Linked DNA regions of Homo sapiens. The protein of the gene in region 1 purifies or fractionates together with the protein of each later gene. This does not show direct contact. Each region holds a gene or a part of one and is shown in the gene's direction. Other genes may lie near its edges.

What was found.
Region 2: the proteins of NMD3 (region 1) and HMMR purify together in Homo sapiens (affinity purification with mass spectrometry; 2 studies listed by BioGRID and IntAct, with this or other methods). This does not show direct contact.
Region 3: the proteins of NMD3 (region 1) and RFC5 fractionate together in Homo sapiens (co-fractionation; one large-scale study listed by BioGRID). This does not show direct contact.
Region 4: the proteins of NMD3 (region 1) and RAD23B fractionate together in Homo sapiens (co-fractionation; one large-scale study listed by BioGRID). This does not show direct contact.
Region 5: the proteins of NMD3 (region 1) and ATF2 purify together in Homo sapiens (co-immunoprecipitation; one large-scale study listed by IntAct). This does not show direct contact.
Region 6: the proteins of NMD3 (region 1) and POTEF purify together in Homo sapiens (affinity purification with mass spectrometry; 2 studies listed by BioGRID and IntAct, with this or other methods). This does not show direct contact.
Region 7: the proteins of NMD3 (region 1) and TRMT6 fractionate together in Homo sapiens (co-fractionation; one large-scale study listed by BioGRID). This does not show direct contact.

Annotation. Positions count from the first base shown.
Region 1 is NC_000003.12:161,238,311-161,241,810, forward strand, and holds part of NMD3 (60S ribosomal export protein NMD3), read left to right. Parts: intron 1-419; coding exon 420-516; intron 517-2,735; coding exon 2,736-2,853; intron 2,854-3,500. UniProt on the Homo sapiens protein: Acts as an adapter for the XPO1/CRM1-mediated export of the 60S ribosomal subunit.
Region 2 is NC_000005.10:163,487,445-163,492,444, forward strand, and holds the end of HMMR (hyaluronan mediated motility receptor), read left to right. Parts: intron 1-1,806; exon of another isoform or gene 1,807-1,939; intron 1,940-2,945; coding exon 2,946-3,108; intron 3,109-3,667; coding exon 3,668-3,720; 3' UTR 3,721-4,497; downstream 4,498-5,000. UniProt on the Homo sapiens protein: Receptor for hyaluronic acid (HA). Involved in cell motility. When hyaluronan binds to HMMR, the phosphorylation of a number of proteins, including PTK2/FAK1 occurs.
Region 3 is NC_000012.12:118,025,956-118,030,471, forward strand, and holds part of RFC5 (replication factor C subunit 5), read left to right. Parts: intron 1-933; coding exon 934-1,063; intron 1,064-1,997; coding exon 1,998-2,075; intron 2,076-3,815; coding exon 3,816-3,870; intron 3,871-4,516. UniProt on the Homo sapiens protein: Subunit of the replication factor C (RFC) complex which acts during elongation of primed DNA templates by DNA polymerases delta and epsilon, and is necessary for ATP-dependent loading of proliferating cell nuclear antigen (PCNA) onto primed DNA.
Region 4 is NC_000009.12:107,327,453-107,331,157, forward strand, and holds part of RAD23B (UV excision repair protein RAD23 homolog B), read left to right. Parts: intron 1-2,090; coding exon 2,091-2,204; 3' UTR 2,205-3,705. UniProt on the Homo sapiens protein: Multiubiquitin chain receptor involved in modulation of proteasomal degradation. Binds to polyubiquitin chains.
Region 5 is NC_000002.12:175,118,795-175,123,794, reverse strand, and holds part of ATF2 (cyclic AMP-dependent transcription factor ATF-2), read left to right. Parts: intron 1-2,254; coding exon 2,255-2,351; intron 2,352-5,000. UniProt on the Homo sapiens protein: Transcriptional activator which regulates the transcription of various genes, including those involved in anti-apoptosis, cell growth, and DNA damage response.
Region 6 is NC_000002.12:130,083,501-130,088,500, reverse strand, and holds part of POTEF (POTE ankyrin domain family member F), read left to right. Parts: intron 1-363; coding exon 364-434; intron 435-2,113; coding exon 2,114-2,158; intron 2,159-2,505; coding exon 2,506-2,687; intron 2,688-5,000.
Region 7 is NC_000020.11:5,939,888-5,944,887, reverse strand, and holds part of TRMT6 (tRNA (adenine(58)-N(1))-methyltransferase non-catalytic subunit TRM6), read left to right. Parts: coding exon 1-83; intron 84-634; coding exon 635-726; intron 727-856; coding exon 857-940; intron 941-1,204; coding exon 1,205-1,329; intron 1,330-2,101; coding exon 2,102-2,460; intron 2,461-2,851; coding exon 2,852-2,937; intron 2,938-3,542; coding exon 3,543-3,645; intron 3,646-3,748; coding exon 3,749-3,835; intron 3,836-5,000. UniProt on the Homo sapiens protein: Substrate-binding subunit of tRNA (adenine-N(1)-)-methyltransferase, which catalyzes the formation of N(1)-methyladenine at position 58 (m1A58) in initiator methionyl-tRNA.

The DNA of each region.
Region 1 (3,500 bases):
CAATCAGGAAGCATATATTGGGTTAACCACCCACTCACAGAGGTGGTAGGACTTGTGCTCCAAAGATCGGGAAATTTTCATAGCTGGAGTTTATATTGAAAGGTACTATTAGTGTGAACAAAGATTTGCAGTGGGCGTTAGTATGGCTTTTAATAATGCTATATAGAAAGTAGATTGGTCTGAGCCAACAGCATGTTCTAGAGGTTTGGTGGAAAAGGTTCAAAATAGGTAGGGCTTAGTTAGAATGGTGAAGGTTTTGACATGCAAGTGCAGGACAGTAGGTTTTACCAGAGGAGGCATCATGAAGCCATTTTAGACCTTGGACAATGATGGTTTGATTTAATGAAAATTGATATTCCTGAGTCCATACAGGTTAATGATCTTTGTCTTTATATTACTACTAACTTTTTTCTTAATAGATACAAAGCATCACAAAGACTGATCTCTCAAGATATCCATAGTAACACATACAATTACAAAAGCACTTTTTCTGTGGAAATTGTTCCAATATGCAAGGTACTTTTCTTTTTCATTTAATCCATATCTGTAAAAGAGTACAAGTAATTAATTGGCTTATATGTAATTTGTAGCTCCTGGTTTTCCTCTAGGGTTGGTTAAAAATTTAGAATAAGTTCCTTAAGTGACTTCTAACACATTCAGCCATGTTAAAAGATATATATTTTTAAAAAAGTCATGCTTATAATTATGAATTGACATGCCTTTTATTTTGGTGTATTAAAATGAAAAGACCTGGTTATAGTTGATAAAAGTCCGTATTCTTTGAAATTTGTGATCCTATGAGCCTGTATCATATAGTTCAGTGAAATTGAATAAAAGAAATGACATTAAAATCAATATTAGTGAGCCACTTTGTGGAATATGTACAAACAAAATTTTGGCAAGAAATGAAAGAATATTGTGATAATGTGAAAATGAGATCATAGAATCATTTTTATGATTTTAAAACATAAGCTGAATAAAACATTTAAAATGTAGATTATTTCATTTAATTGTACTAAGATAAAACTCTGCTTCAGAAAAATATGAATTAAAATTCAATAAATAGTTATTGAGTATCTATAGTATAGAAGGCTGTGTACTGAGGATTGTATAACTACAGGTCTCTGCCATGTAAGAATTTATATGTCAGTATTAAATCACTAAGAATGATAACTGCCATTATTGTGACCATTCTACATAAAGTTAATCTAGATACTTTAGTGTCTTTCACCTCATTCTCATCTCATAATAACTGAGGTAAGCCATATCATTTTGACGATGAGGAAATTGAAGTTTGAGGAGGTTAGATAACTTGCCCAAAGTTACATGATCACAAAATGATGAAGCTAGGATTTGCACCCAGGTCTGTGTCTCCAAAGCTTTAAAACTGCTATTGCTATTTTATAGTATGTACTAGGGATGAAATGATAGCTTAAAATAGGGTCAGCAAACTTTCTCTGTAAAGAGACAGATGGTAAATTTTTTAACTTTCAGGTCGTATAATCTCTTTTGCAGCTACTCAGCTTTGCTGTTGTACAAAAGTAGCATGGGTAATATGTAAAGGAATGTCAGGGCCGTGTTCTGGTAAAACTTTATTTACAAAAACAGATGGTGGGTCAGATTTGTCCTGAGGGTGGCATTTTGCCAACCTCTGGTTTAAAACAGTAAATGTTTCCCTGGTACAAATCTTGAGAAATATGAATTTAGGTGTGAGGGCATATTTAGGCCTTGTGTAACTGAGTTTTACACATGTAAAAATTAACATATGTATTAAACTATGTAAAAAAGTATATTTGTTTATCTTTGGAAACTCATGTATTAAAAACCAAGGACTGAACTAAGAGCTGTTATGATTGTGAATAGATACACCTTAAAATATAACTCAGATCTTTTTTGTATTTTAATTCAGTTTAAAAACAGATAATTACGTTGCTGCTTCATGTCTCCCAATATAAATGTAGACATGTGACTTTTTTGGGCTTAAATCTTTGATTGTATATTGGCACATGTAGCCATGTAAGAGAAATGTGTTCCTTTGAAGTTTATTTTTTAATGGAGATTGAAAGAAGTCACAGGTGGATTTATAGAATCACTCTCCTGCTAATGTTTATAATACTCTGTTTAGAATGTACACTGTATTAACATATAGAGTGATAAGAGGCATTCACACTGCAATAAAATGGAAATAATAATAGCTTGGTGATTTGGGCCCTGGATTTTTTTTTTTTTTTTGAGAGACAGTTTTGCTCTGTCACCTAGGCTAGAGTGCAGTGGCACCACCTTAACTCACTGAAGCCTCGACCTCCTGGGCCCAGGCTGTCATTCCACCTCAGCCTCCCAAGTAGCTAGGCCCACAGGCATGCACCACCACGTTTGGCTAATTAAAATATATATATATATGTATATGGAGACAGGGTCTCCATATGTTGTCCAGGTTAGACTTGAACTCCTGGGCTCAAGGGATTCTCCCACCTTGTCCTCCCAGATTGCTGGAATTACAGGAGTGAGCCAGCGTGCTCAGCCAGGATTTTTTTTTTTTTAAAGCATTTTTATTAAGACAAGATGCCTGTCATACTTAAGGTCTGATTCTTTTCTTTAGTCTCTTTGTTGATTGATAGAATTGAAAATAACGTTTTGGTTGGTCAAATGCAATTGGATTGGGTGTTTATTGATGAGTGTTTATTGGACTGTTATTTAGGATATGCCTCATTCTAAATGTTAGTTCTTATGCCTAGGATAATGTTGTCTGTCTGTCTCCAAAACTGGCACAAAGCCTGGGAAATATGAACCAGATTTGTGTGTGTATTCGAGTAACCAGTGCCATTCACCTCATTGATCCAAACACCCTACAAGGTAAATTCTGGAAATGATTTGCCTTGACAATTTTGTTTTGTATGACAAACAATAATAATTTGTGTTGTTAATTTTTCAAGCATTCTTGCTAATATTGTTTTGAAAGGTTAGTTAAAATTTGTGCTATTGTTTAATACAAAACATTGTGGAATTTGCAAGCTTTGATTAGTTACTTTTGTATTTTTTATTTAAAGAAACAATTCTGTTAATTTTTACATATTTACTGGTTTATTCCATTAATTTTTACTGAAATTGACTTTTTTTTTTTTTTTTTTGAGATGGAGTCTGGCTCTATTGCCCAGGCTGGTGTGCAGTGGCGCAATCTCAGCTCACTGCAACCTCCGCCTCCCAGGTTCAAGCTATTCTCCTGCTGCAGCTTCCCAAGTAGCTGGGATTACAGGTGCCTGCCACCATGCCCAGCTAATTTTTGTATTTTTAGTAGAGACGGGGTTTCACTGTGTTGGCCAGGCTGGTCTTGAACTCCTGACCTCGTGATCTGCCCGCCTCGGCCTCCCAAGGTGCTGGGATTACAAGCGTGAGCCACCATGTCCAGCCTGAAATTGACTTATTTACCTCATTTAATTTTTGTGACTATTTACTTAAGTCCATTGCCAAAATTTGGTGTCTAGCAGTTATTTTAAATTTTG
Region 2 (5,000 bases), on another chromosome or scaffold:
GAGTGAGAAATGTTCCCTCTTTTCTATGTGGAATGGTTTTTGAATAATTGGTATTAATTCTTCATTGAATGTGTGGTAGAATTTATTGGTGAAGCCATCTGGACCTTGGTTTTTCTTGTGAATATTTTTTGGTTACTAATTCAATATCTTTACTTGATATAGGCTTATTCAGATTATCTCTTTCTTCTTGATTCGGTTTTCTTCTTGAGTAGTTTATGTCTTTCTATAAATGTGCCTAATTTGTTGGTATATAATTGTTCATAGTATTCCTTTATAATCTTTTTTTTATTTCTGTAAGGTCAGTAGTAATGGCTTCTCTTTATTTCTGATTCTAGTAATTTGAGTCTTTTTTTTTTAAGTTTCTTTCTTTTTTTAAATTTTTAGTGGAGAAAGAACTTTATTTTTTTGTTTGGTTTTTGGGTTTTTTTAGAGACAGGATCTCACTCTGTCACCAGGCTAGAGTGCAGTGATGCAATCACGGCTCACTGCAGCCTCAACCTCCCTGGGCTCAGGTGATCCTCCCACCTCAGCCTCCCAAGTAGCTGGGACTACAGGCGTGCGCCACCACATCCGGCTAATTTTTCTACTTTTTGTAGAGACAGAGTTTTGCCATGTTGCCCAGGCTGGTCTGGAGCTCCTGGGCTCAAGGAATCTACCAGCTTTGGCCTCAAAATGCTGGGATTATAGGCTTGAGCCACTGCACCTGGCCAAGAACTTTTCTTTTTTATAATTTCATCTTTTATTTTAGATGTGGGGGTACATATGCAGATTTGTTACATGGGTGCATTGCATGATACTGAGGTTTAGGGTATGACAGGTCCCGTCAGCCAGGCAGTAAGGATAGTACTCAATAGGTGGTTTTTCAGCCCTTGTTTAATGGCTGAAAAATCCAACATCCGATTACTCTCAGACATTTTTTCTCCTTGTGTCCAAATGTATAGGTTATACTTTTCTGTTTATTGGCATGCCTTGTAATTTTTCATTGGAAAGTAAATTTTTAGATCATATATTGTAGCATTTCTGGGTACAGCTCCCCCTCCTTTTGGGGGCTTTTTATTTGCTTGTTTGCTTAATGAGTGGCTCAATTATTTTAGGGAAACATATCCCACTACCTCCCCAGACCCCAACAGTATTGTGCCTCTGATGTTGCTGTTCAGGGAGGTACAGTTTTAGGTGTGCCCACAATTACCCTGGGATGACACTTGCTTTGGTAGGGCTGCCTTCCTCTCTTTCCGTGAACATAGTGACTGTAAACTCCAGTAGATGCTGGCTCCTTGCTTGATTATTTGCAACAGTGCCTTAGGGCATAAATTGCTCTATAAACTAATCCAATCAAATTCTGGCTCCTTTGTAGGGATTGCATACGAGAGCAGTGCTGGATATTTATTCTGACTACAGAAGGGCTCGTCCCAGCTGTCATATTCCCTAGTTTTCTCCTGCAAACTAACTAGCCTACTGTTCAGCCTGTATCTTAAATCTCCTCCCATTTCTCTCTCACTATAACCACCACTGTTCTTTAATGGTTCCCCAACCTTTTTGGCACCAGGGACCAGTTTTGTGGAAGGCAGTTTTTCCACAGACCGGATCACCCAGCTTGTGATGGGTTTATGTGGATGGTTTCAGGATTAAAGTGTTCCACCTCAGATCATGAGGCATTAGATTCTCATAAGGAGCATGCAGCCTAGATCCCTCACATGTGCATTTCACAATAGGGTTCACACTGCTGTGAGAATCTAATGCCGCAGCTGATCTGCCAGGAGGGGGAGCTCAGGGGGTAATGCTTATGCTTCCTGGCTCACCACTTACCTCCTGCTCTGCAGCCGGGTTCCTAACAGGCCTTGGATGGGTATTGGTCTGTAGCCCGGAGGTTGGGGACCCCTGCTTTAGAGCACCCTTAGGCTTCAGCTTCTCCAAGCTCTGTTGCAGGTGAAGTCAGTTCCTTTGAAAAGAAATGAGGAGCTCCCTGTTTTATGGCCTACTTGTCTTTTCCGCCCTCCTTTCCCCCTCCCCCGACAATATCCCTGAGCCAGGACTAGAGCTGAAATTGGGGACAATGGCAGTTTTCTCTCTGAGTGACATCCTCTGCCCTAGGAGCTGAGTTTTCAGTGGACTTGTGGGGAAGAGATGAGGAATAGCCTCAGGCCCTCTTGAGTAACCTCCTGGTGTAGAACCATCCCCCTCATGAGCCAGAGAAAGAGTCATCGGGGCCCAGCATTTTCAACACACTGTGCCCAAGGTGAGCCCCTGTTCCATGAATGGGGCTGACTGGAGGAAGGGATCCCCCACCTCACAATTGCATTTGTCCAGGATATAACTGCAGCCACAGGGAGCTGGGGACAAAATGAGAAACTCTGATGTCCTGGTCCTCCTGGGAGGGAAGCTTCTGACTCGGAGTTGGGGGAAAAGAGGGCCCTGTGCTTTTGGCTGTAGCCGTCTGGCGTGGACTTTGCCTTGCTAAGCTGGGAGTGGGAAGAGGGGAAGGAGTTTTGGCTTAAACACTGCAGACTCTCTTTTTCACCAAATTTTTGCAGATTTTCTTGAATAGATGTTTCTTCATTTGCTATTTTTCCCTTAGGTCAATTTTCAGAGGCTTTAACTGGTTAATATTTTATAACTTTTAGTTTCACTAGGGAGCAGGTCAGCAGAACTTTCATGCTGTCATGCCAGAAGTCCATCTCAGCAATTACTTTTGAGTTGAACTTTTATCAGAAAAATAGCTTTGTAGCTGAGGAGGGGCAAGGAGATTTAAAAGACTGTATCTCCTTTGTCACAGCTGTTTCATGTCATTTTGTAATTCAGTCTTAAAGCCTGTGTCTAGTAGTGATTTTTGCTGTTGAGTGTGATAATACATAAACAACTTTGGAATTTGCCCGCAACATTGGTAACACATTTCACTGACATACTCTTTAATAATTGTTTATTACCTATTATTTCTTTTTACCTAGGAAGTATCAAAACTCCGCTGTCAGCTTGCTAAAAAAAAACAAAGTGAGACAAAACTTCAAGAGGAATTGAATAAAGTTCTAGGTATCAAACACTTTGATCCTTCAAAGGCTTTTCATCATGAAAGTAAAGAAAATTTTGCCCTGAAGACCCCATTAAAAGAAGGTAAGACATGAATAAATGTATAAAAGTGTCCTCTTCCTTTGGATTTGCTTTTATAGCATTTAGCAAGTCATCCATTTTATGAACTGTGAAAATTTGTTGACACCTTCTGATAAAAGCAGTTCTTACTGAGATTGTTGTGTACAATGACTGTTTTCTTCCTCCTTCTACGCTTTCTTTTCTGTATACCTGGATTCTGCCTGTTCTTCAAGGCAAATCTCAAATCTTCCTTGAAGCTTTGCATGACTATTTTGTCCCTGTCCACACACCCCAAATTACTCCCTCTATAATACCCTTAGCATTTTAACCTAAATGTCTCTTAGGTCCTTAATCATTTTCTGATTTGTAGTTTTAGAGAAGTAAATTTCTTATTTCTTGACTGTGAATGTTTGTCTTTCACGATAAATTAAAGTTGGTTGAAATGATAAATCTAAAAATTATCTTACAGAATATATTGCTTCATCTGCCTTAAAGAAGATACAAGGCCTGTTTTTAGTTTATAATGATGGATAAATTCGTTTTAATCTAGATTACTAATCCTTCTTTTCAATAATTCTTCTAGGCAATACAAACTGTTACCGAGCTCCTATGGAGTGTCAAGAATCATGGAAGTAAACATCTGAGAAACCTGTTGAAGATTATTTCATTCGTCTTGTTGTTATTGATGTTGCTGTTATTATATTTGACATGGGTATTTTATAATGTTGTATTTAATTTTAACTGCCAATCCTTAAATATGTGAAAGGAACATTTTTTACCAAAGTGTCTTTTGACATTTTATTTTTTCTTGCAAATACCTCCTCCCTAATGCTCACCTTTATCACCTCATTCTGAACCCTTTCGCTGGCTTTCCAGCTTAGAATGCATCTCATCAACTTAAAAGTCAGTATCATATTATTATCCTCCTGTTCTGAAACCTTAGTTTCAAGAGTCTAAACCCCAGATTCTTCAGCTTGATCCTGGAGGTCTTTTCTAGTCTGAGCTTCTTTAGCTAGGCTAAAACACCTTGGCTTGTTATTGCCTCTACTTTGATTCTGATAATGCTCACTTGGTCCTACCTATTATCCTTCTACTTGTCCAGTTCAAATAAGAAATAAGGACAAGCCTAACTTCATAGAAACCTCTCTATTTTTAATCAGTTGTTTAATAATTTACAGGTTCTTAGGCTCCATCCTGTTTGTATGAAATTATAATCTGTGGATTGGCCTTTAAGCCTGCATTCTTAACAAACTCTTCAGTTAATTCTTAGATACACTAAAAATCTGAGAAACTCTACATGTAACTATTTCTTCAGAGTTTGTCATATACTGCTTGTCATCTGCATGTCTACTCAGCATTTGATTAACATTTGTGTAATATGAAATAAAATTACACAGTAAGTCATTTAACCAATTAATTTTTCAGCTTGTATTTTATGAAGTTACATTCATGCTTCTATGTAAGATGTATTTATCATCTCTACCCTACCCACACCACCTTGTCCCCAGAATCACAAAAGATACTGTTTGGAAAGTGGTAAATCTCTCTCTAAAATGCCTGTTTTGCACATATCATTGGTATGATATTTATAAGCTACCTTTTTTATAATGTGTTCTCACTGATGGCTCAACAGGGACTATCAGTCAGAATTGCTTTTCATTATTATTTTATTAGATCTTAATACATGGTTGAATTTTAAAATACAGTTTTTTAAATTAAGTTCAGAAGAAACGTAGAAATTAGAAAAATTGTCTAATAAAATAAAATGGTTTAATGGGCTGGGCCCAGTGGCTCACGCCTATAATCCCAACACTTTGGGAGGCTGAGGCAGGTGGAATTCAAGACCAGCCTGAGCAACATAGTGATACCTCATCTCTAAAAAATATATAAATAAATAATAAAATGCTTCAGGACCT
Region 3 (4,516 bases), on another chromosome or scaffold:
CTCCTGCCTCCTGAGCAGCTGGGATTACAGGTGCCCGCCACCACGCCCTACTAATTTTTGTATTTTTAGTAGAGATGGGGTTTCGCCATGTTGGTTAGGCTGGTCTCGAACTCCTGACCTCAAATGATCCATCTGCCTCAGCTTCCTAAAGTGCTGGGATTACAGGCATGAGCCACCATGCCCAGCCTGGTCCCAGCAAATCCTGAGTCATTGTTTTGTAATAGTTTTTGAAGAAAGACCTAAGCAAAGGCATGATCAATCTGTAAATTTTGAAATCTACAGCTGGTAAGACCTTGGTCTCATAACCTGCAGGATTCCCCCTCCTCACTTTGTATTTTGATTAATTGAAAAAATCACTTGTTGCAGGCCAGGTATGGTGGCTCACGCCTGTAATCCCAGCACTTAGGGATGCCGAGGGAGGTGGATTGCCTGAGCCCACGAGCTGGAGACCAGCCTGGGCAACATAGTGAGACTCTGTCTCCACTAAAAAATCATGAGCCAGGTGTGGCGGTGCACACCTGTAGTCCCATCTACTCAGGAGGCTGAGGCAGGAGGGTGACTTGAGCCTAGGAGGTCGAGGCTACAGTGAGCCATGATCATGCCACTGCACTTCAGCCTGAGCAACAGAGCAAGACCCTGTCTCAAAAAACAAAGAGAGAGCAAAAGAAAATGTTTTAAAAACAAAAGGAATCATTTGTTGCAAAGAAGGCAAAGGGAGGGAAGGATTTGGCACTGGAATAGCCAACAGGCTGTGGCATCCTCTGATGAGGTGACTCTTCCGGTATTGAATATGTGGGTTCCCACTGCCTTGTGCCCATAGAACTTTGCTGCTCACCTGCATTGCTGCCTTGGCAATTTCTTCTTGGCTCCCTGCAGCTTGGTGGCAGCTGTGACAGCCACTGTGATCTCCCCTTTCCCCCTCTGTCTACACAGAGCACCAATATGGCCTTTGGGAAGGTGACAGAGGAGACTGTCTACACCTGCACCGGGCACCCGCTCAAGTCAGACATTGCCAACATCCTGGACTGGATGTTGAATCAAGATTTCACCACAGCCTACAGAAGTATCCTTTCTCATGACCTCCTGGCCACCGAGACCTGAAGGTGGCCCCAGGAGTTCAGGTTGCAGCCAGCACCCACACCTTGCTGGCAAAGGATGACTGGCTGCAGGCGACTCTGGTCAGCTTGTTGTGGGAGTGAGATGTCTGTAGGTGGAGTGGGTACTTGTCTTTAGCACTCCAGAGTTCTTCTTGGAGGGCTCTGACCTTCAAGTCAGGGTAAGGCTTGAAGCAGCTTCACTCACAGATGGGAGAAAAGCTTAGGCCTTGGCATTGAAGATGCAGGAATTTTCAAGTGGTCATGATAGTGATAGCTCTTGTGCTGTGAAATGAAAGGCTAGGAATGGTGACACAAAGCCTTTTTGGAAATGCATTTGGGGCTGGGTGTGGTGGCTCATGCCTATAATCCCAGCACTTTTGGAGGCTGAGGCGGTAGATCACTTGAGGTCAGGAGTTCAAGACCAGCCTGGCCAACATGGCGAAACCCCGTCTCTACTAAAAATACAAAAATTAGCCGGGCGTGGTGGTGGGTGCCTGTAGTTCCAGCTACTCGGGAGGCTGAGGCATGAGAATTGCTTGAACCCGGGAGGCAGAGGTTGCAGTGAGCCGAGGTCATGCCACTGTACTCTAGCCTGGGTGACAGAGGGAGATTCCATCTTAAAAAAAAAAAAAAAGAAAGAAAGAAAAAGAAAACGCAGTTGGCTTTATTCTCTACTAGAAGGAGTTACAACTCTATCTTTCAGAAAGCCCTTACTGAAGATGAAACAAAGAAAAATAAAGAATTGGAGTCCAACACGTGCAGCTTCAAGTTGAAAGAGAAACAGTTGTGTTGGGATTAAAAGCCTTACTTTAAAAAGTCTCTTGCCCGGGTTTGGATTCAAAATTCTCTGCAGTATGTTTGTTCTGGAACTTGTTCCCTTTGCCTTAACTGCTCCTCTAGATATTACAGAGTTGAAAACTCTGAAGGGGTTGGCACTGCATGATATCCTGACAGAGATACACTTGTTTGTGCATAGAGGTAACTTACATTATCCCCCAGCTGAGAAGCTGTGGAGAAGGTAGCCTGCTTTGGGGTTAAGGATGGTTAGGACAGGAGGCTTCATTCTTGAAGCAAAGAAACTAATGAATTGTAAATCAGACCCTTCTTGTTAGCAGTTCTGTCTTGCCACTGTTTAAAATTTTGTTCCAGAGCTGGGTACGGTGGCTCAAGCCTGTAATCCTAGCACTTTGGGAGGCCAAAGCAGGCAGATCACCTGAGGTCAGGAGTTGAAGACCAGCCTGGGCAACATGGTGAAACCCCGTCTCTACTAAAAATACAAAAAATTAGCCTGGCATGGTGGCGCACGCCTGTAATCCCAGCTACGTGGGAGGCTGAGGTGGGAGAATCATTTGAACCTGGGAGGTGGAGGTTGCAGTGAGCCAAGATTTGCCACTGCACTCCAGCCTGGGCGACAGAGCTAGAGTTTGTCTCAAAAAAAAAAACAAAACAAAACACAAAAAACGTGTTCCATAAACCCTCTTTTAATATCTAGAACTGCTGGGGAAAGTGAAAACTCCTGGAGGCTAACTTTATTTCCTCTAGGGGTTTATATTTTATAGCAGTAAGTAGTATATATTAATTCACATTTCTAAAAAAAAAAAAAAAGTCTGTCTATCTATCTGTCTATCTAGATATATATTCCCAGAAAAGAAAGAGAAGATATGTAAACCATGTAAACCAAAGCAGGCTTAAGGAAAACATCTTAAGTTCCACACTTGCCTGTACCTTCTACACAGAGAATTGGTTCTCAACCTTGGCAGCAGATAGGGGCACTCCAGACAAATTAAGTCAGCTTCTCGGAGGACAACCAGGCATCCGTATTCTCTAAGCTCCCCAGGTGACTTGTGTAGGCTTTCGGAGAAGCTCTTCCTTCCACAGTGGCCAACTGCAAGATGGAGACTTAACCGGGTCAATGAATGTTGGTTCTGCCCAGGCCTTCACAGGCCTCTTCCTGGCTGGCCCATGCCATGCCTTCTGCCCAAGGTATGGTTGGCTCAGGCCCAGCTCTGCACCTTGATTGTGGAAGCTGAGCATAAACCAACTTTAAAAAATCAGTTGTTTGTGCTTGGTTTTTAAATGGGGACAGGATCGGTATAGTGGCTGACGCCTGTAATCCCAACACTTTGGGAAGTCAAAATGGGTGGATCACTTGAGCCCAGGAGTTTGAGACCAGCCTGGGCAACACGGTGAAACCGCATCTCTACAAAAAGTACAAAACAGCCAGGCAAGGTGGCGCACACCTGTAGCCCCAGTTACTCAAGGGTCTTGAGGTGGAAGATCCCTCAAGCCCAAGAGGTCAAGGCTGCAGTGAGTCATGATCACGCCATGCCATGGCACTCCAGCCTGGGCAAGACAGTGAGACCCCGTCTCAAAATAAAGTAAAATATAAAATAAAAACAGCAAGTGGGAACTCAGCATTCAAGTTAACTTGTAGAGCTACCCAGCTGCTAAGAGCAGTGTGATCTTTGGTGCTCTTAGGATCACTTTGGTATCTGCTCATTTTCCTTTTTGTCTACCCTATAAAGCACAAAATCGAGTGGGTAAAAAGTATGAAACCAGCACTGTTTCTACTTTCTTAGAGGTCTGGTATCTAGTGAGCAGGCTGAGGCCTCAGGACTAGTTCAGTGTTAAGGATTTCATGTTGAAACTCATTTGTCCTCTGTGGGTTTTTTGACAGTAGAGAGTGACCTAACTCATTTGATTTTGTTTTTCCCTCAGTTGACTTTCCATCTTCAGTTCGAATACATTTATTGACCAAAATGGCAGACATTGAGTGAGTACTTCTTGCCCCAGTTTTAATTCTTTTCTTCCTTTTTTCCCCTGTTGTGAGTTATTTGTTTCAACTTTCTTGGTTTCAGGTTTTTTTCCTAAATCGTTCACATACGGTACAATCTAGTCTGGTGATATTGAATGGAATGTGGGGAAGGGTGTGAGCTGCTTAAAGAACATGGGGATAAATTCACAGGTCAAGTACAGATCAGTTACATATCTGAGATGAAGGCCTCTCCTTGGACCTCACAGGCTCGGCCCACATTGATTCTGAAAATGCCCTTGTTATTTGGGAGGCCTGCTTTGCTTCAACCACCCAGCTGTTATTAAGGCATTTTGGCATACTAAAGCATATTGGGGGGAAAAGTAAACACAAACTCAATTTTCTGCTTTGCCTGGTTCCGTAAACACTGTTATTAGCCCCCAGTGAAGCTGGCAGCTATCATTTAAGTAGACAGAGCATTGGGTTCAACATAGACGTCAGCATAGGCCAACTCTAATTTGTGGCATTGGCTTTCACAGGCACAAATTAGGTCACCTCTCCTCATTGCATTGTGAATATGATGATTTTGCTATCAGTGGCTGGGCATTTAAAAGGTGGCGAGATGAACTCCAGTGTCCTGCTTTACTGACTAGACCACAGACCCACC
Region 4 (3,705 bases), on another chromosome or scaffold:
TTAGTATGTTGTATTTTTGCTTTCTTTCATCTCAAAATGTTTTTTAATTTCCCATTTGGTTTCTAATTTAATTCATTCGTTATTTAGGATTGTGTTAATTTCCACAAGTTTATGAATTTCCCACATTTTCTCCTTTCGATTTCTAAATTCATTCCATTATAATCAGAGAATATACTTTCAATACTTTTCAACTTATTGAGGTTCGTTTTGTGGCCTAACATGGTATTTCTGAAGAATGTTCTATGTATACTGAAGAAGAATATAGTGTAGTTCTTATTAAGTGGTCTATAAATATCTGATAGATCTAGTTTGTAGTCAAGTCTTCTTCCTTAGCTGTTTTATCTATTATTGAAGGTGGAGCTGTAGTTGTCTCTATTATTGTTAATTGCCAATTTCTACCTTTAATTCTCAGTTTTTATTTTATGTATTTTGTGGCTCTGTTATATATAATTGTTGTGTCTTCCTGAACCCTTTTTATCATAAAATGCCTTTTGTCTATAGTAACAATTTTTATCTTAAATCTGTTTCCTCTGATATAGCCATTCTAGCTCTTTTTTGGTTACCATTTGCATAGTATATACCTTTTTCTATCATTTTACTTTCAACCTACTTGTGTCTTTGAATCTAAATTGTGTGTTTTGTAGAAGCAGGCAGTTGGATTGTACCCTTTACTTCACCTATCCTAGCTTTAATCTGGATAAAACCCAGATAACAAACTGATTTTTTAGTTTCTTCTGCTTTCATAGATGAATAGTTATTCGTGATGAATTGGGATTTTTGCCCAAATTTTAAGGGTTATTTCCAAATATAATCTGACACAGCAGTCTTTAACCTTTTTGGCACCAGGGACCAGTTACGTAGAAGACCTTTTTTTCTACCAACATAGGTGGGGTGGGCGCAGTGATTTTGGGATGAAACTGTTCCACCTCCGATCATCAGGCGTTAGTTAGGTTAGGAAGTGGGGTGGGGCGGTGGTTTTGGGATGAAACTGTTTCATCTCACATCATCAGGCATTTGTTAGGCTATCATACGGAGCACAGACCCTAGATCCCTCTCATGCACAGTTCACAGTAGGGTTCATGCTCATATGAGAATCTAATGCCGCCACTGATACAACAGGAGACGGAGCTCAGGTGGTAATTCGAGTGATGGGGAGTGGCTGTAAATACAGATGAAGCTTCACTTGTTCGCCCACTGCTCACCTCCTCCCGTGCGGCCCAGTTCCTTGCTCACCCACTGCTCACCTGCTCCTGGGCAGCCCAGTTCCTAACAGGCCAATGGCTGGTGCCAGTTCACGGTCTTGGGGTTTGGGACCTGTGATCTAACTCAAGGTGATTGAGACAATTGAGGAGGGTGACATTTGGCTGAGTTTTTAAAGGCTTTTAAAAGGAGTGAGTATTGTCACAAGTGATTTTTAATATAATAGACTAGGAAAATGAAATTAAGTAGCTGGTATTACCATTTAAAATGCTGTAACTGTTAAGCAGATAAAAATAGAACATTATCTTCAAAATGTACCATGTATTACTAATAATTGGTCACCTGTTTTTCTAGTATGGAGTGTTGAATAAAGCAAGGAGATTGAGAGTGATGTTTGATCCAAATGAAAGACATGAGTTGACATTAATAAATAAAACATAATTTGCTTTTAATTTAGAAATAGGTGAGGTGGTTAAACTATACTGCAGGTACTCTCATCCTTATCTTCACTCTTAATATACTAAAAGCCATTTGATTTACATATTTCTGTAGAGTCATTTATTTTTAAACCATAGCAGTTAGCAGCTAATTTTTAATTAGGCCAAAGAGTATTTGCATAGTATCTATTAAGCTTTAACTAGAAACAAAGACTTTTTTAGGTGATTAGTAAAGGAAAGGGTCTAGATTCCATCTAATCCCTTGGGTTGGGCAGTAAATCCATATTGATAGAGATGAATTCATGTAAAATTCTCAAGAGCTTTTTTGGGTTGCAGTATGTTTTTGAGTAATGATTTATCTTTAGTGCTATGCTGGAATCTATAATATGTAAATAAAATTAAATGTGCCATAATTGGTGTGTTGGATTTATATTTTTTTCCTTTTTCTTCCAGTTAAAGGCATTAGGATTTCCTGAAGGACTTGTGATACAAGCGTATTTTGCTTGTGAGAAGAATGAGAATTTGGCTGCCAATTTTCTTCTACAGCAGAACTTTGATGAAGATTGAAAGGGACTTTTTTATATCTCACACTTCACACCAGTGCATTACACTAACTTGTTCACTGGATTGTCTGGGATGACTTGGGCTCATATCCACAATACTTGGTATAAGGTAGTAGATTGTTGGGGGTGGGGAGGGAGGGATCTAGGATACAGGGCAGGGATAAATACAGTGCATGTCTGCTTCAATTAGCAGATGCCGCAACTCCACACAGTGTGTAAAATATATACAACCAAAAATCAGCTTTTGCAGGTCTTTATTTCTTCTGTAAAACAGTAGGTAACTTTTCCTAGGTTTCACTCTTTTTAGTGTACTAGATCCAGAAACTTAGTGTAATGCCCTGCTTTATATTTCTTTGACTTAACATTGGTTTCAGAAAGAATCTTAGCTACCTAGAATTTACAGTCTCTGTTTCATGGCAACACTGGATAATGGCTTTGTGAAATTTAAAAAATTTTTGTAGCGACTGTAAACAGAAATGCCAAATTGATGGTTAATTGTTGCTGCTTCAAAAATAAGTATAAAATTAATATGTAAGGAAGCCCATTCTTTCATGTTAAATACTTGGGGTGGGAGGGGAGAAAGGGAACCTTTTCTTAAAATGAAAATAATTACTGCTATTTTAAAATTTCTTGATCATTGAATGTGAGACCCTTCTAACATGATTTGAGAAGCTGTACAAGTATAGGCAGAGTTATTTTCCTGTTTACATTTTTTTTTTGTTTTGGGGAAAAAATTGGTAGGTGTCTAATTACTGTTTACTTCATTGTTATATTGCAGTAAAAGTTTTAAAACAACCATTGCATGTTTGCTTTTGATGTATCCCTTTGTGAAATTAGCACTTTTGGGGCCAATGGAGAAATGCAGCATTCACTCTCCCTGTCTTTTCCCCTTCCCTCAGCAGAAACGTGTTTATCAGCAAGTCGTGAGTCAAACTGCTGCCTTTTAAAAAACCCACAAAATGCTGATTCAGTTCAAAATTAATGCAAATGTTTCAAAACTGGGTTTCTGATATTTGTAAATGTGTTTCTTTATTAGATAAGAGTGTATTACCATTAAAGTCATTAGTATAATATTGCTTTCAAAAAGAAATGGTAGACAAAACTATAATCCAGCATCTTTTATTGCATTGGAAAGACTGGCAAAGTCTTTTGGATGGGTTGGGAGATGTGGCTGGAAAGTACTTTGGAAAATATACAATCAAGATATCTCATGGCATATTAAAAGAAAAATCTTAATAGCAGTGTTGGCTTTTATTTGGATTTTTTCATCTCAGTTTTTTCTGTGGAATCTCCTTCATTGGCATTGTTATTTAATCATAAACGGGGCAGATGTCTACTTGTTCAGTTTTTCAAATCTGTTTTCCTGAGTATAAATAAGAGTATTTAAAGAAATAATTTGGATTGCTTTTGTTTTTTGTTTCCTTTTTTTTAACCATCTGATACTAAGAAGATGAATTTGCACAGATTTCTCTGCATAATTTCTCAATATCTTTAGCACAGTATGG
Region 5 (5,000 bases), on another chromosome or scaffold:
ATACTGTTACAGGATCAGTAATCCCTTTGTAAATTGCATTTAGGGAAATTTGATCTGTGGATCTTATATGAGAGTTTATAAATACATATTCCTTGCATTCTCCCTTTTAATATTCATATGATCCTAAATATTTGTTAGGTTGCTTCTGGCCACTTCTTTACACTTAGGATTGAACTTGGTGCCATTTCGTATGTTTTGTACGAACACAATGTTATTTATTCTACATGCAGTTCTTTGATTTGAATATTTGGGGTCAAACTAATCCAAGCAAAGAAAATTGATAGAATAAAATTCCTAGGCGACAACATTCCAACTTCTTATCTATTAATTTGTTGAGTTTGCAGTTTTAAAATCTGGGACCTGCACCAAAATGCATTCATTCACAAATGTTTAATGATTGCCTTCAGTGGAAAAGCCACATTATGAGGTTCTTTGAAACATAAACTAAATATTACTTTCAGATGCTTTTAGTGTAGGATGTAAGACACATATATTTAAAACAGCAATACAAAGAAAAAGCATAAAATATTAATGTCAGTATGCTCTGCAGATATGTTCGTTTTCTGAGAACTTTGTTATTCAGCAATCTGTCAAAAGTACCACTGTTTCTTATTTCTCCAAAATTGGGGGAGATTCTTATAATGATAAAGTAATAGGAAGACAGTACCTGGGTGGGGAAAAGTTTGATTGTGGTCCTACTGCCTATAGTTGCTGCCCAGTAAATGTCTGAAGAGTGAATGAATATGTCAAGTAGTGGAAGTGTTGTTGCATCTGAACACTCTCCTTCAGTGGTAATACAGGCAGGTTCTGAAGAGAGGTTATAAAATAATAGTTTTCTGTTGGCATGTGAAGTAATCCAAAGACTAAGTGATAAAATGTAGCAAGATTAAATTGAAGTTGAATTCATCTTAATGAACAATGGTTTAGGGTCTTTTTTAGCCCCCTCAGATTGATCTTTAAGATTCATCTATTTTATTGTAATGAATTCATTCTTTCAGTTAGCATTTATTGAGTACTTAACTATATGCTAAGTTTGGGGGACCACGGTAGGAGCTCAGCCTACTTAAAAGGACAGACATATGAAAATATGATAGGTGCTATAACCAAGGCATTGTGCCGCACACATGAGATGATTTTCACCTCTACAGGCAGACGGATAGTGGACTGGGCCAAAGATGTTAAAATGTTAAAAATGTTTCATTCTTTTACATTGTGTTTAAGGTAACCCTAAAGCTACTATTATTAGTTGCATGAAAGGATGTAGTGAATTGGGTAGGGGAAGGAGACCACAAGAAATGGAATTCATTTTGATGGTTTGGGCAAACCAAGTTCAAGTATATATATTTTAACATCCTCACTTGTAAGGTTATAAAGAGTGAATTGAGATCTGTTAACTTAGCATTTTAAAATTATTGCTCTGAAATAACAGCTCCCTGTTTTCAGTTATAAATGTTGCTTAATGAGCATCTTCAAAAATGTTGATGTTCAGACATTGGAGATAATGCATTTATTATGTTGTAATCATAAATGTTACCTTTGGCATGCAAAACTTATCCAAGTTAGAGGTAGGAAAAAATATGATGGATAACTTTAAAAATAAAATGTTCTAAAAACAACTTTGCTCCATTTTTATGTAAGAACTCTCATGAAAAAATTATTTTGGCTACTTTAAATTTTTTTATTTTAAAATGAGCTGTTTTGTTATTGTATCGGTTGCTATTTCTTTGCTGGATTAAAACAAAGGCATTCTTTTTTATGTGGTAACATAAAAATCAGATTTATTTCTAAATTTTGTCCAGGCGTAATACTTTTATAAGAAAATTCTCTTTTAAAAAGTGGTAAGTAACCTTAAGTCTAGGTAAATATTAATACTACAGTACTTTCTTGAAAAGTCATTGAACCATGGAGTATAGTTTCTACTATGATAAGACAAATTAATGGTGGTCTATTTTTAGTATCCATAAGAAATTTATATAAAGTTTCTTTGCCTCCAATTTTATTTTTAAATGCTCTCAAATGAGTTATGTGACCTAGCAATATATCAGTATTGCTTATTCTTGAGTAATAGGTTTCTCTGTGATTGTTTGCAATCTAGTGTGCTATCTACTAACAATAACGGATTCTTTTATAGTTTAAAAACTGCTATTTCACTGTTAATGGTGGTTTTACATGTTGTGGAAATTAATTTCCTAATCATTTTACTTATTTGATCAAATTGAAAATCTTAACTATATTTTAAAACTTTTTGCCACAGCGTTTTACCAACGAGGATCATTTGGCTGTCCATAAACATAAACATGAGATGACACTGAAATTTGGTCCAGCACGTAATGACAGTGTCATTGTGGCTGGTTAGTATATGCTTTTATTAATAGCTTGTATACATATTTCACCTGGAATGTGCACAATTTTTGTGTATTCTCTGTAAATAATATAGTCTGGTGATATTCCAATGACTTCATTATAGTAAATGTTGGCAACATGTATTTTACCCATTACATTTTCATGTTTCCTTCTGACTATTCATTTCATTTTTTTGTGTGGTTTTCAAATTTATATTCCAATGTCGATTTTGTGGAAGTTCATTAGAACTCTGGGAACATTCATACCATCTACAAATTTTACATTTAACTAATAATTGAACTAACATGGTATTTAGTCAGCATTTCTTTTAGCTGTCTTGTACAACTGACTTACAAGGCTGTGTGAAGATAGAAAATGATCAAGCTTCTCCCATTGGAGAAAGAACAGTGAGCAGACTTGTTCATTAGAGTTGTTTATATTTCTTTTCAGACTAAACATTTGTATTAGTAAAATATTCTCAGTAAGGAGGCTCTAAATTCAGTCAATGCAGTTTTTGTGTGTTGACACTATGAACGTACAGTATCACCTAAGCAGATGATTATTTTTCACTGTATGTGAAAAGAAAAACCCAGTTCATACATTGGTTGATTGTCATTCCATGCTGTATTAGCTGCCTTTTTTTGGTATTTAAATATATACACACACACATCTATGTATATATACATATATGTCATGTATAATTTTGCTACTTTTTTGTATATTTTATAAGTATTATGATAAAACAAAACTATATAAATTTCAGATCCTTTGTGTCATCACAGATTTACATATCATAAATATTCAGATTAACTCCAGATTTTTCTTTTCTCTTGTAAAGCTTGTTATATGTCATATAAGTCTGGAATTACACCCAAATACTGTAATACTTTTAAATTATTAATCAGTATAGAGACCAAATTGTTCTATGCAGTGTTTTGGATAGATAATAAAGCAAATATTCGGTGGTTTTCCCTCTACTTACAGTATTGAAATTTTTGTAATGAAGAAATTGAAGGTAACAAAGTTAATTTATCGAAAACAATATACGTAGGAAAAATGTAGGGGAACTTCCAACATATCCTAACTAAGTTCCATAAGTAACTTAGAGATATGTTACTTATACAGAAGAGTGAGATAATGCTTTTTTTTTTTTGGAGTATTTTACATTAGACATTAAGAGCTAGAACCAAAGGAACCAAACAAGCAAAATAGTAACAACCTCGAAAGTTCACTCTCCTAGGCATGAAGCTCTTTGTTTCTCTGAAACTTTCTGCCTTAGCACAATCTCTGTCTGTGTGTAACTCTTTAACTCAAATATGTTTTGAAATTGGTTTCTAGAAATTACTTTCCTGTCTGATCACATTTAATGCAGTAGAAAAATAGAGCACATTCAAACACAGTACTTGACCTTTTTTTTCACTAACATGTTGAGATGAATAGGTTAACATTACTATGCAAATAAAATGCATGATGTGTGTGGTATATTTTTGGTGATCAGTAGCCATATGCAATGTGCATGTTAAATGATTGTGCCTATGTTGACTTTTCTGAAGTCTGATGGTTCCAGTAATCATTGATAAAAGTGACTTATGCTTATGTATTTTATTTTTTTAAGATTTTCCCCTCCCTTTAATGTAAGTTAAGAGCCTTCTGATGAACTTAGATAGACAAACCCTTTGGGTGTGAACAGAAGAGTCACATTTAGATTTGACCTACTAATTTAGTCATGATGGACTTAAGCTAATACATGTACTTTACTTACTGTAATGTGATTTTTGAGATCTTTTGGGAGGTGGGAATTAAGGGATAGGCTAGAAACTAGTAAAATTATGATATAATAGAGTCCTTTTAGTAATTCTGATATTACTAACAGTGCCTGAAACAGGCCTGCATTATGTCTAGTTTTGTATTACAAGTGGGTCATTTTAGTGTGAAATATATTTGTACATAGTAAAAATACTAGTCCTCTAGGTATACATGTGGGGGGCAAAGGTAAAATAGGAAGTAATGCCCTCTGTGGGGACATAATGGTTAACAAATATGTAAATTTTAATCTTACAAAAGGAATTAGGAGTATTTTCTCTTAAACCAAGAGTCTTCCTTAGTAGAGTACTTTTACTTCACTTAGGCTAGATCCCTGCTATAGCCTGTAAAATTGGTGCTCTAAAATATATTAAATGTGAATAGAATTTGAATGTGCTACCAACTCTAATCAATATGAATAGACACCCTTGAAAATAGTAACACTAAATAGGCAGAATTTATAAGTTTCTTGCTTTTCATTCAGTGTAAATCTTACCTGGCATTTTTTGTAGCCTATACATGGACACTGAGTACCTATGTTAATGTACATAGTAGGAGTACATATTCGAGTAAAGTTGAAATGTTTCATGTTGTAAGAAAATAGAGTAGACTCTTTCTTTACTCCTTAGGAATTAAGCTAGAACATTCTGGAGGCATGTGACTCACACATATTCCTTGTACCTAGCTTGTAAAATGCATTAAATTAGAAAATTAGTTTCAGTAGATAGTGGTAAAAAGAGGGTTTGTTGTTTTAGGGCTGTTTTAACTTTTTTTTTCTTTCTTACAATATTTTTATCTACCTATTAAAGATTGTTTTATCTTAGTTTGCTTTCATAATAGAGTATGAACAGCTA
Region 6 (5,000 bases), on another chromosome or scaffold:
TGATTTTGGAAATCATTTATAAGGTACTATTAGGAAGTGGAGAACAGTACACTGTGTCACCTTATATGTTTCTACTGTATTTTAAAGCTGTGTTTCTGGTGGTTTTGTTCATGGATGTTGGGTGGATGAATTTGTGAGGGAATTTTTGACATGTTTGTTTGTCTTCAATCTGGTGACATCTGCTATCTCCCCAAGTGGGTTTTTGAAGTTTTTGAGAATTATTTCTTAAATGACAATTTCACAAAAGATGAAACACTCAATTTATGAAATAAAATGAAATGTCTCAAATCTGTTTTTAAAAGGCAATAGTTTTTAACTGTTTTAAGTGGTTGATTTTAACTGAATGTATGGATTTTTCAACAGAACAAGACTTAAAGCTGACATCAGAGGAAGAGTCACAAAGGCTTAAAGGCAGTGAAAATGGCCAGCCAGAGGCATGGAAACTTTTAAATTTAAACTTTTGTTTAATGTTGTGTTTTTTTTGCCTTAATAATATTAGATAGTCCAAATGAAATTACCTTTCAGACTAGGCTTTGAGAATCAGTAGATTGTTTTTTTAAGAATCTTTTGGCCAGGCAAGGTGGCTCACGCCTGTAATCCCAGCACTTTGAGAGGCTGAGGCAGGTGGATCACGAGGTCTGGAGATCGAGACCATCCTGGCTAACATGGTGAAACCCCGTCTCTAGTAAAAATACAAAAACTTAGCTGGGCGTGGTGGTGGGTGCCTGTAGTCCCAGCTACTCGGGAGGCTGAGGCAGGAGAATGGCATGAACCCAGGAGAGGGAGCTTGCAGTGAGCCGACATCCACCACTACACTCCAGCCTGGGTGACAGAGCGAGACTCCATGTGAAAAAAAAAAAAAAAAAAATTTTAATAGATTCTTAAAATTTATTGTAATAAAATCAGCAACCTTATTAACAGAAGAATCAATAGATTCTAATTTAATATTTGATATTTAACTTCAACATAACCCACTATAAAATTTAAAATACTCTTATTTTAAAATATTCTTATCTGCCTTCTTGATTAGCTTATAGCTAATCTCTCCTTTTGGAATAGAGGCAAAAACAAATTTCAGAACTTTGTTTGTTCTTTTATTTTTACAACACCCTAACATGATAAAGAAAGTAACATCAATGATTGAATCATATTATTAAGCAATAGGAATTATGAACAATGTAACACTGATTCCCTGAGCTGGATTCATGGTTAAAGAGTAATCATGGCCTGTGATTGAAAATCCACAGTTTTATATTGTCAGTCACTGATACCAAGGTTAAGGACATATCCTGCCTTGTGGTCTCTCGTTGACCTCAGTGTTTCTGTTCAGGGAGGGAACCAGGTCATAAAAGCAACCCAACTGCCTATTACAAGAACCATATCTTGCAGAATGGGACCTTTGGTGTTAGTGCACAAACACAATAACATTCTAATTTATTTCAGTTGCAGAAAATCAGTAGAGATTAAAAAATTTTATCTGCTGTCATTAGTACACATTAGAATATATTAGAACTGGACTTACGCAGATAATCTGGATACATAACACTATCATATGACAGTATATAATTTCAATTAAAATGTGAGAATTTGCATTTCTTTCTGTTTGGTGTTGATTTCGGCTCCTAATAGTTTAAAGGGTGCCTACAATCCAGTTAGGAATCTTTTAAAAAAGCACTTCAGTGCACTGTAGGTGCTCACTAGTTAGGGTTTCATGAGGTAAACTCTTTTCAAGTGAGGAAGATTTTGGAACACTACAAATCATCTGCTGATTCATTTTTGGTAGATTTAACACATAACAAATTAAATTTAGTCCAAACAAATAGTGAGAAAGTTAAGTTTGCTGGTTCATGTTTTTCTTCTCCCTTTGTCTAAGGTGAATTATTTTTCACATGTTAGAAGCCAGTGATGTGGCAGTAGCTAAACATAGATTAAAAAGTTAATTCTTAATTTTAATTATTATTTATTTTAACAGTTTAATTTTAATTACTTTCTAATTTTTATTGTCCATACTTGATTACTTCAGAATAAAATTATTTTAAAAACATGCACTCCAAAAGAGGAAATGTCACAGAAATACAACAAGCAAATTAACCTTCTGTTTTTACATCTGCAGAAAAGATCTCAAGAACCAGAAATAAATAAGGATGGTGATAGAGAGGTATACCTTTATATTCAAACGTTTGTGTTGAATTAGATTTTTACATTATGTTGTTTAACAAAGTGTAGTAAATGTAGGCATACATGATCCTATCATGTAAGTAGCATAAATCATCAGTGAAAAATTAAATAGTTAACTCAGAATTCTGTACATTGAATTTTGAAGAGGTGCAAACCCTAGAGCTATTCTTTCATTATTATGGAATAATCCCGAATGGTGCCATAAAATGCTAGGTAATGCCACTTTAGGAGCTTTAGACCAATTATTTTATCTTTCTTGGTTTTAGTCTGATTATCAATAGATAATGTGCCTAAAGTAGATAATTTCTTATTCTCTGTATTTTCCAGCTAGAAAATTTTATGGCTATCGAAGAAATGAAGAAGCACAGAAGTACTCATGTCGGATTCCCAGAAAACCTGACTAATGGTGCCACTGCTGGCAATGGTGATGATGGATTAATTCCTCCAAGGAAGAGCAGAACACCTGAAAGCCAGCAATTTCCTGACACTGAGAATGAAGAGTATCACAGGTAAGCCTATGGCAACATTGAACAGGAGGTAACTTTGTGCTGCCAAACTAATCCTAATTTGAGCTAATATTCATGATGAACAAATTTTATACTTTTATTAGGATATTGAGCCTTGCCTGTTAATCAGAAAAATGAAAATCAGCAAACAATCAGTTACCGTTTTTTTTCCAGTCATTAATTTATTTGAAAAATAACCAGTATTGGCAAATGTGAGGGAAAAGACATTTTCTTCTCTTTTCAGTGAACTTTTATTTTAGCTTCGGGGTACGTGTGCAGGTTTATTATATAGGTAAACTGTATCATGGAGGCTTGGGGTACAGATTATTTCACCAGCCACATAGTAAACAAAATACTCGAAAGGTAGTTTTTTGGTCGTCTCCCTCCTGCCATGCTCCTCCCTCAAGTAGGCCCCAGTGTATGTTATTCTCCTCTTTGTGTCCATGAGTTCTCATGTTTAGTTCCCACTAATGAGTAAGAATATGTGGCATTTGATTTTCTGTTCCTGCATGAGTTTTCTTAGGATAATGGCCTCCAGCTCCATCCGTGTTGCTGCAGGGGAAATGGTTTCATTGAAAAAGACATTTCATATACTGTTGGTAAATACATTTTGAACATTAATTGAGTAGCATATTCACACACACATATATAACAGTAAGCATATATAATACATGTAAAGGATATTTGTATAGATATGTTATATGTATACTTATGTATAAGGACATTTATTATAGTATTATGTAAAAAATTTGGAGCTAGTCTAATTCCTTATCAATAGGAAATAGCTCAATTTCCATATCCCCAAAATAATGTATTATGCAACCATTTTTAAAAAATGAGGTTAGATGTAGGGTATACTGATTATTTCACAATTAAAATGTATTTAAAGCGTTTAGTTTGATGACACATCTTAAGAGTTCTTGTTAAATTTCTTGTAATATCTGCTGTGTTGCAAATGGAAGCTACATGCTACATTGACACTGTACCTTGTTAGCAACAAGATTGCTAGTTACTAAATTTTTGTTGTCAGTGCCTGAGTGCTGAAATATTGGACCCTCAATCTGAATATTGCCAAGCGATTGTACATGGGGATCTATATTTAATATAAACATTTCAGTATATTTGGTAAAACTTTTATTAAAATACATCAAAGAATCTTTGATCTACTAAACCAGGAGTTGGCCAGCTTTTTCTGCAAAGAGCTAGTTAGTAAATATTTTAGGCTTTGTGGACTACATATATTGATTTTCTTGAGACAGGGTCTCACTCTGTTTCCCAGGCTGGAGTGCAGTTGTGTGATCATGGCTGACTGCAGCCTCGACTTTCTGGGCTCTAGTGATCCTCTGACCTCAGTCTCTACTAGCTGAGACCACGGGTGTGCAACATCACACCCAGCTAACTGACACTATGGACTGTAAAGTGAATAAGCATGGCTGTGTTCCAAGATACTTGACTTACAAAAACGGGCAGTGGGCTGGATTTGGCCCACAGGTGCTTATTTGCTGACCCTTGTGCTAAAAGGAAGGTGCTGCTAATGCAGTGACTTTTATTTGTAAAAGTGCCCTGCATGTGTGACATTATCCTCCCTTTGAGAAAAGGATATATTTCAGTATTTACCTCACCATATTTTTCCAGTGACTTCATATGATTTTGAAAACTACATTTATAAAATAAGATTATTTTCTGCATTTCTCCCACTTTATTCCTGTTAATAGAACTCAGTATTTTACTGTGATCAATTACTTCGTATATTTGATGAGTGTCAACTGTCCTAGAATTGGCTGATTTTTATCAAGCAAGAAATATTCTCCTTGAGAGTTTTAGTATTTCTTGGTCTTTATGTATAAGCGTGAACAAAATGATAATCAGCTTATGTAATCTAGAAATGTTCAAAGGGCCTTTAAAACCTTGGTCTGACATTTCTAAATGCCATATGTGTATAATTTTTATAACCTTTAGAATATATAATGGTTACATAAAATTTGAAAACTCCACCTGGTATGTAAAATTTGGAAGCTACTATTTCTTGTCTATCACTTTTCCATGACTGTGGATGAAAATTACATCATTCTCAGTCATGAGCGTTAAGTATATTGTCCTTAAAGAACTGTCTACACTCATGAACTCAAATTTTCTTTCCATTCACTCTTGATCTCAATGCCGGTAAGTCTTCAATTTCAGCACTCCTCCAGAACTATTTTTCCTCAAGATTATCACTAATTTTTTTCTGTACTAAATCTAGGCATTTTTCTTACACCTCATTTAATCTGTCAGCAATATTTGAGCCAATGGAGGGCATCTCCTCCCTAATGGCGT
Region 7 (5,000 bases), on another chromosome or scaffold:
GAAATATAGTTGATGATGGGAAATCTCAGAAACTTACTCAAGATGACATAAAAGCTTTGAAGGACAAGGGCATTAAAGGAGAGGTAATATTCAAAGGATTTTTAGTTTTGTTTTTGTCTGTTTGGCATTTAGGAAACTGTTGGGTTTTTAAAGCAGACTGTACCTAAGGTAAAACAAAAAAATAACGTTATAGCTTTGATAGAAATAGGTTGAAATGTACATGTTACTCAACATTTCAAAGATTTTATGTCTTATATACAGGAATATAAGTGAATGACATTACTAATGTCAGTGGTAGAGAATGTAATAACAGTGCATATCAGGATTTAACTTTGTTCATTTTCAGTAATGTTTTCAGCCAGTGTCTTCAGAAATTAGTTTCCTTTACCTCTCTTCTCCTTTTGTTGGATATCTCTGTTCTTTTACGTTGGTTTAAGTGGAGTTATAAAGTACTTGTATTTTATTATAAATTCCAAATAGAGTATAGAAATATAAAGTTCATCTATTTGGACTTCTGTGGAAAAGGGATTGGAGAATCAGACCATTGGATCCATTCTTGGGTAAGAAGCCTTTGGAAATTACTTGTTTTGTGAAAGTAAAGTTTCAGAAAATCTACTTGCTCCTTTTCTTATAGGAAATAGTTCAGCAGTTAATTGAAAATAGTACAACATTCCGAGACAAGACAGAATTTGCCCAAGATAAATATATTAAAAAGAAGAAAAAAAAGTAAGTAGTTTTTATTTTAAAAGGCCCACAATATTAAACTTCTTATATGTTTATAAAATATACATTTTATTACAAATAAAATATTTTAAGTCATTTTTTTAAATCAGCGTTCTGTTTTTTCTTCCCCCAGATATGAAGCCATCATTACTGTTGTGAAGCCATCCACCCGTATTCTTTCAATTATGTATTATGCAAGAGAACCTGGAAAAATTAAGTACGCTTTGTTTCCTTTCAAAAGTATAATTGGGGGAAATATGTCTTTAAGAAAGTCATGATTTTAAGTAAAATGAAAAAGCTTGCTCACCTGCATAAAGTATCCTCCTACCTCATAAATTGTAAGTCCTTTTACTGTCACCTCCAAAGCAATCAATAATCTTATCAACACAATTTTAATAAAGCAAACAAAACTTGAAAAATGATGATTAAAATAATAGGCTTTACTTAGCTAAAAATGAACAAATTATTGTTTTTACTTTAGCCACATGAGATACGATACACTAGCCCAGATGTTGACGTTGGGAAATATCCGTGCTGGCAACAAAATGATTGTGATGGAAACGTGTGCAGGCTTGGTGCTGGGTGCAATGATGGAACGAATGGGAGGTAAGATTTAATATTTCCATTTTCAACAAAACCCCACCCTGATGTGAGTAAAGGTGGTCCAAAAATGTAAACTCATGGAAAGCCAAATTGAATTACTTCAGGGTTAACAAAGTGACTTGGGTGAACCTGCACGGCTCCTAGCATGGGGACCTTCTTACACAGTCTCCATCACCCAGCCCCCCACCCATGGGTACCCCCAAACCCATGGCAATTGTCCTTTCTAGCTTCACTGTCAGTGGGCATGATGCTGGAGCCTGTGGCTGGCTAGGGCTTTCGGGACAGTGATTTTAGTAAACTCCTGGGTAGCTGGTGCTCATTTCATTGGGCCTAAATTGAAGGGATTGAGTGGGAAGATTACTAAGCATGTATTCTCTCTGGAAGAATACAACACAGCCTGATTTGTCTGGTTTTTTTCTGACCCCATAGAAGGTAAGAACTTGTAACTGCTCCATTTGAGGATCGGAGTGAGGGGAAGCAGAGTCCGTCACCAATCATGTGACATCCAAATTTGCAGACACAGGGTTTTACAATAGTATCAAGTGGGGATAAGCTTCTTTGAGTCTTCCTGCTATCTGCTTTAGAATTATATTACCTCCATTGGTAATACTCATAGACTCCAAACAGACTCCCTGAGGAGCTGCACCATCCTTCAGCCTCTGAATAAAGTACTAATAGAAAGACCTTCAGTCTCATTACTGTGGAGGACTCACTGAGGGTTTACGTAGTCTAGAGTCACTCCACGGGCAGATGTTTGTTTCTTTTATCTGTTCAGGTTTTGGCTCCATTATTCAGCTATACCCTGGAGGAGGACCTGTTCGGGCAGCAACAGCATGTTTTGGATTTCCCAAATCTTTTCTCAGTGGTCTTTATGAATTCCCTCTCAACAAAGTGGACAGTCTTCTACATGGAACATTTTCTGCCAAGATGTTATCTTCAGAGCCAAAAGACAGTGCTTTGGTTGAAGAAAGTAATGGCACACTGGAGGAAAAACAGGCTTCTGAACAAGAGAATGAAGACAGCATGGCAGAGGCCCCAGAGAGCAACCACCCAGAAGACCAGGAAACAATGGAAACAATTTCTCAAGATCCAGAACATAAGGGGCCTAAAGAGAGAGGAAGCAAAAAAGATTATGTAAGGATGCCAAGAGTCCCCACCACCCCCATAATCTCAGTCCCTCAGTTAACTTCAGTTAAGTCATGAGATTTAGTTTGGCTTTGGTGTATTAGCTCCCAAGATGATAACTATCAAAACAGAGAACGAGTGTGTGTACATGTATACAAACGTGTGATTCGGTCTTCGGGATGGAGCTTTAGGATACAGAAGCGTTGCATAGATAGCTTAATCATGGTTTTTATAGTATATAGGCTTTCTTGTGTATTTGCAACTTCCTTATAAACAACCTGCTTCTATTGGTTTAGTCCAAGTTGATAAATATTGTTGAAATGTTTTGACAGGCCAGAGCATTTCCATAAATTTGACTGAAAGACCCCAGTACATTGATTTCTTATTTTTCTTTTTGAAGATTCAGGAAAAACAGAGGAGACAAGAAGAGCAGAGGAAAAGACATTTAGAGGCTGCCGCTCTGCTGAGTGAAAGAAACGCAGATGGGTGCGTTGATGGAAGAAGGCAGGAGACTCCTCAGTGCATGTGGGCTCTGCTTCAGACAGATTGGCATTCTCTTTCTCCTTGTCTGCTTTGACTCTAGTGGGACCCGAGATGAGGATTTTGTCTTGGGGGTTTTTTTAAAGAAAGGAGGCTGAGGCTGGCAGGGGTGGGGAATTGATGATGCTGGTTTCAGGGTTTCAGAAGAAATTGAATCTTCTCCATCACTGCATCAAGATGGGCCCTGTGGTCCCACTGGATGCAGGGGATGGGGCACTCAAATGCTGCGATACAGGCTATAACAGATATCCACAAAGCAGCTTATGCAGTGTTGGATTTGTTTCCAGGTGATTTTTTTTAAAAAATCAAGAATGTCATTAAATGCGACTTAGAGTTGCCAAGTACCACAAGAGCTTCTAACCTAGTTCGCGTTTCCTAGAAAGAAATAGCTCATGATTGTATTCTGTTTTGGATTTCTAGAATGTTATATTTAAATCTCTTCTCTTTGTGAGTCATGCAAATTAAATACATGATCATTTTAAATGCATTTTAAAACCTGTGCTCCACTTTGAGGGTGTAGAGAAATAATTTGTCTGGCATTTTCCTTACAGTTTAATTGTAGCTAGTCGTTTCCACCCCACTCCCCTGCTGCTGTCTTTGCTGGACTTTGTGGCCCCTTCAAGGCCGTTTGTGGTCTACTGTCAGTACAAAGAGGTAATACTGGAATGGAATGGGCAGGAATTCTTATGTCTGAATGTTGATTCTTAAACTGCATCCCAGGAAGTAGTTCTTAACAGAATTCTGTTGTTGTCTGCAGCCTCTGTTGGAATGCTACACAAAACTGCGGGAGAGGGGAGGGGTCATCAACCTCAGGCTGTCTGAAACCTGGCTCAGAAATTATCAGGTACGTGTTCTTACAGCCAGTCCCAAGAGCTGCCCTCCCGAGACTTGACTTTCCTTGCAGTAGTACTAGAAGTCATTAAATAGAGTTATCTCAGCCAGGCACAGTGGCTTATGCCTGTAATCCCAGCACTTTGGGAGGCCAAGGCAGGCAGATCGCTTGAGCCCAGGAGTTCAAGACCAGCTTGGGCAACATGGTGAAACCCTGTCTCTACAAAAAAAAATACATAAATTGGCTGGGCATGACCCTGTATCTACAAAAAATATAAAAATCAGTCGAGCATGGTGGCAGGTGCCTGTAGTCCCAGCTACTCAGGAGCTGAGGTGGAAAGATTGCTTGAACCCTGGAGGTCGAGGCTGCAGTGAGCCGAGATCCCACCACTGCACTCCAGCCTGGGTGACAGAGTAAGACCCTCTCTCAAAAACAAAACAAAATAAAAATAGAGATGTCTCTGTTTCTTTCTACAGGGATGGAGATTTCTCATGGCTGTTACTCAGAGAATATGCCCCTGACTTTTTGTGACCCTTTTTTTCTCTTGTTATGTCAGAATATATTACTCTGTAACTCTGCCCTAAAGGCATTTAAAATGCAAACCATTATGGTTCTTATTTCCCCAAGGCCTCAGTATCACTGTGGATGATGTAATTGACAATAGCAAAATTCCCAGGTGGATGAGAAACTGGCCCTTTCCTCTCTGCCAGGATGTTTTTGCAGCAAGTTTTCAGGATTTACTGGTGGGCTCTGTGTCAGTTCAGGTCTTCTGGAAGACATATGCTAAGATGGAAGTTGAAGTGTAAGAGATTTATTGAGGGAAATGCCTTAGAAAGATAAGGGGAGAGGGAGCAAGATTGGTGGTGCAGGTTGATGCCTGGGCAAGGAGCGGGTAGAGAAAGGAGGATGGTAGGAAGAGCCTGCAGTGCTGCTCTGGAGAAAGTCTCCATGAGGCTGATGGCGAGCCCAAGTGGAAAGATCGCCATTCAAGGAGCCCTGTGTTAAGCAGAAATGCTCCAGCTCTGGTACCCATGCTCAGTTACTGACTGGAAGCAACCCATGGCCTCCCTCGGTATGAATGCTGCAGTGGATCCCAAAGGAGCGGCAGCTGGAGGTGTTCTACTGCCTGAATGCCTCTCAGCTGTTCCCTCATGAAGGGAGATCTGAGGGGAGCACC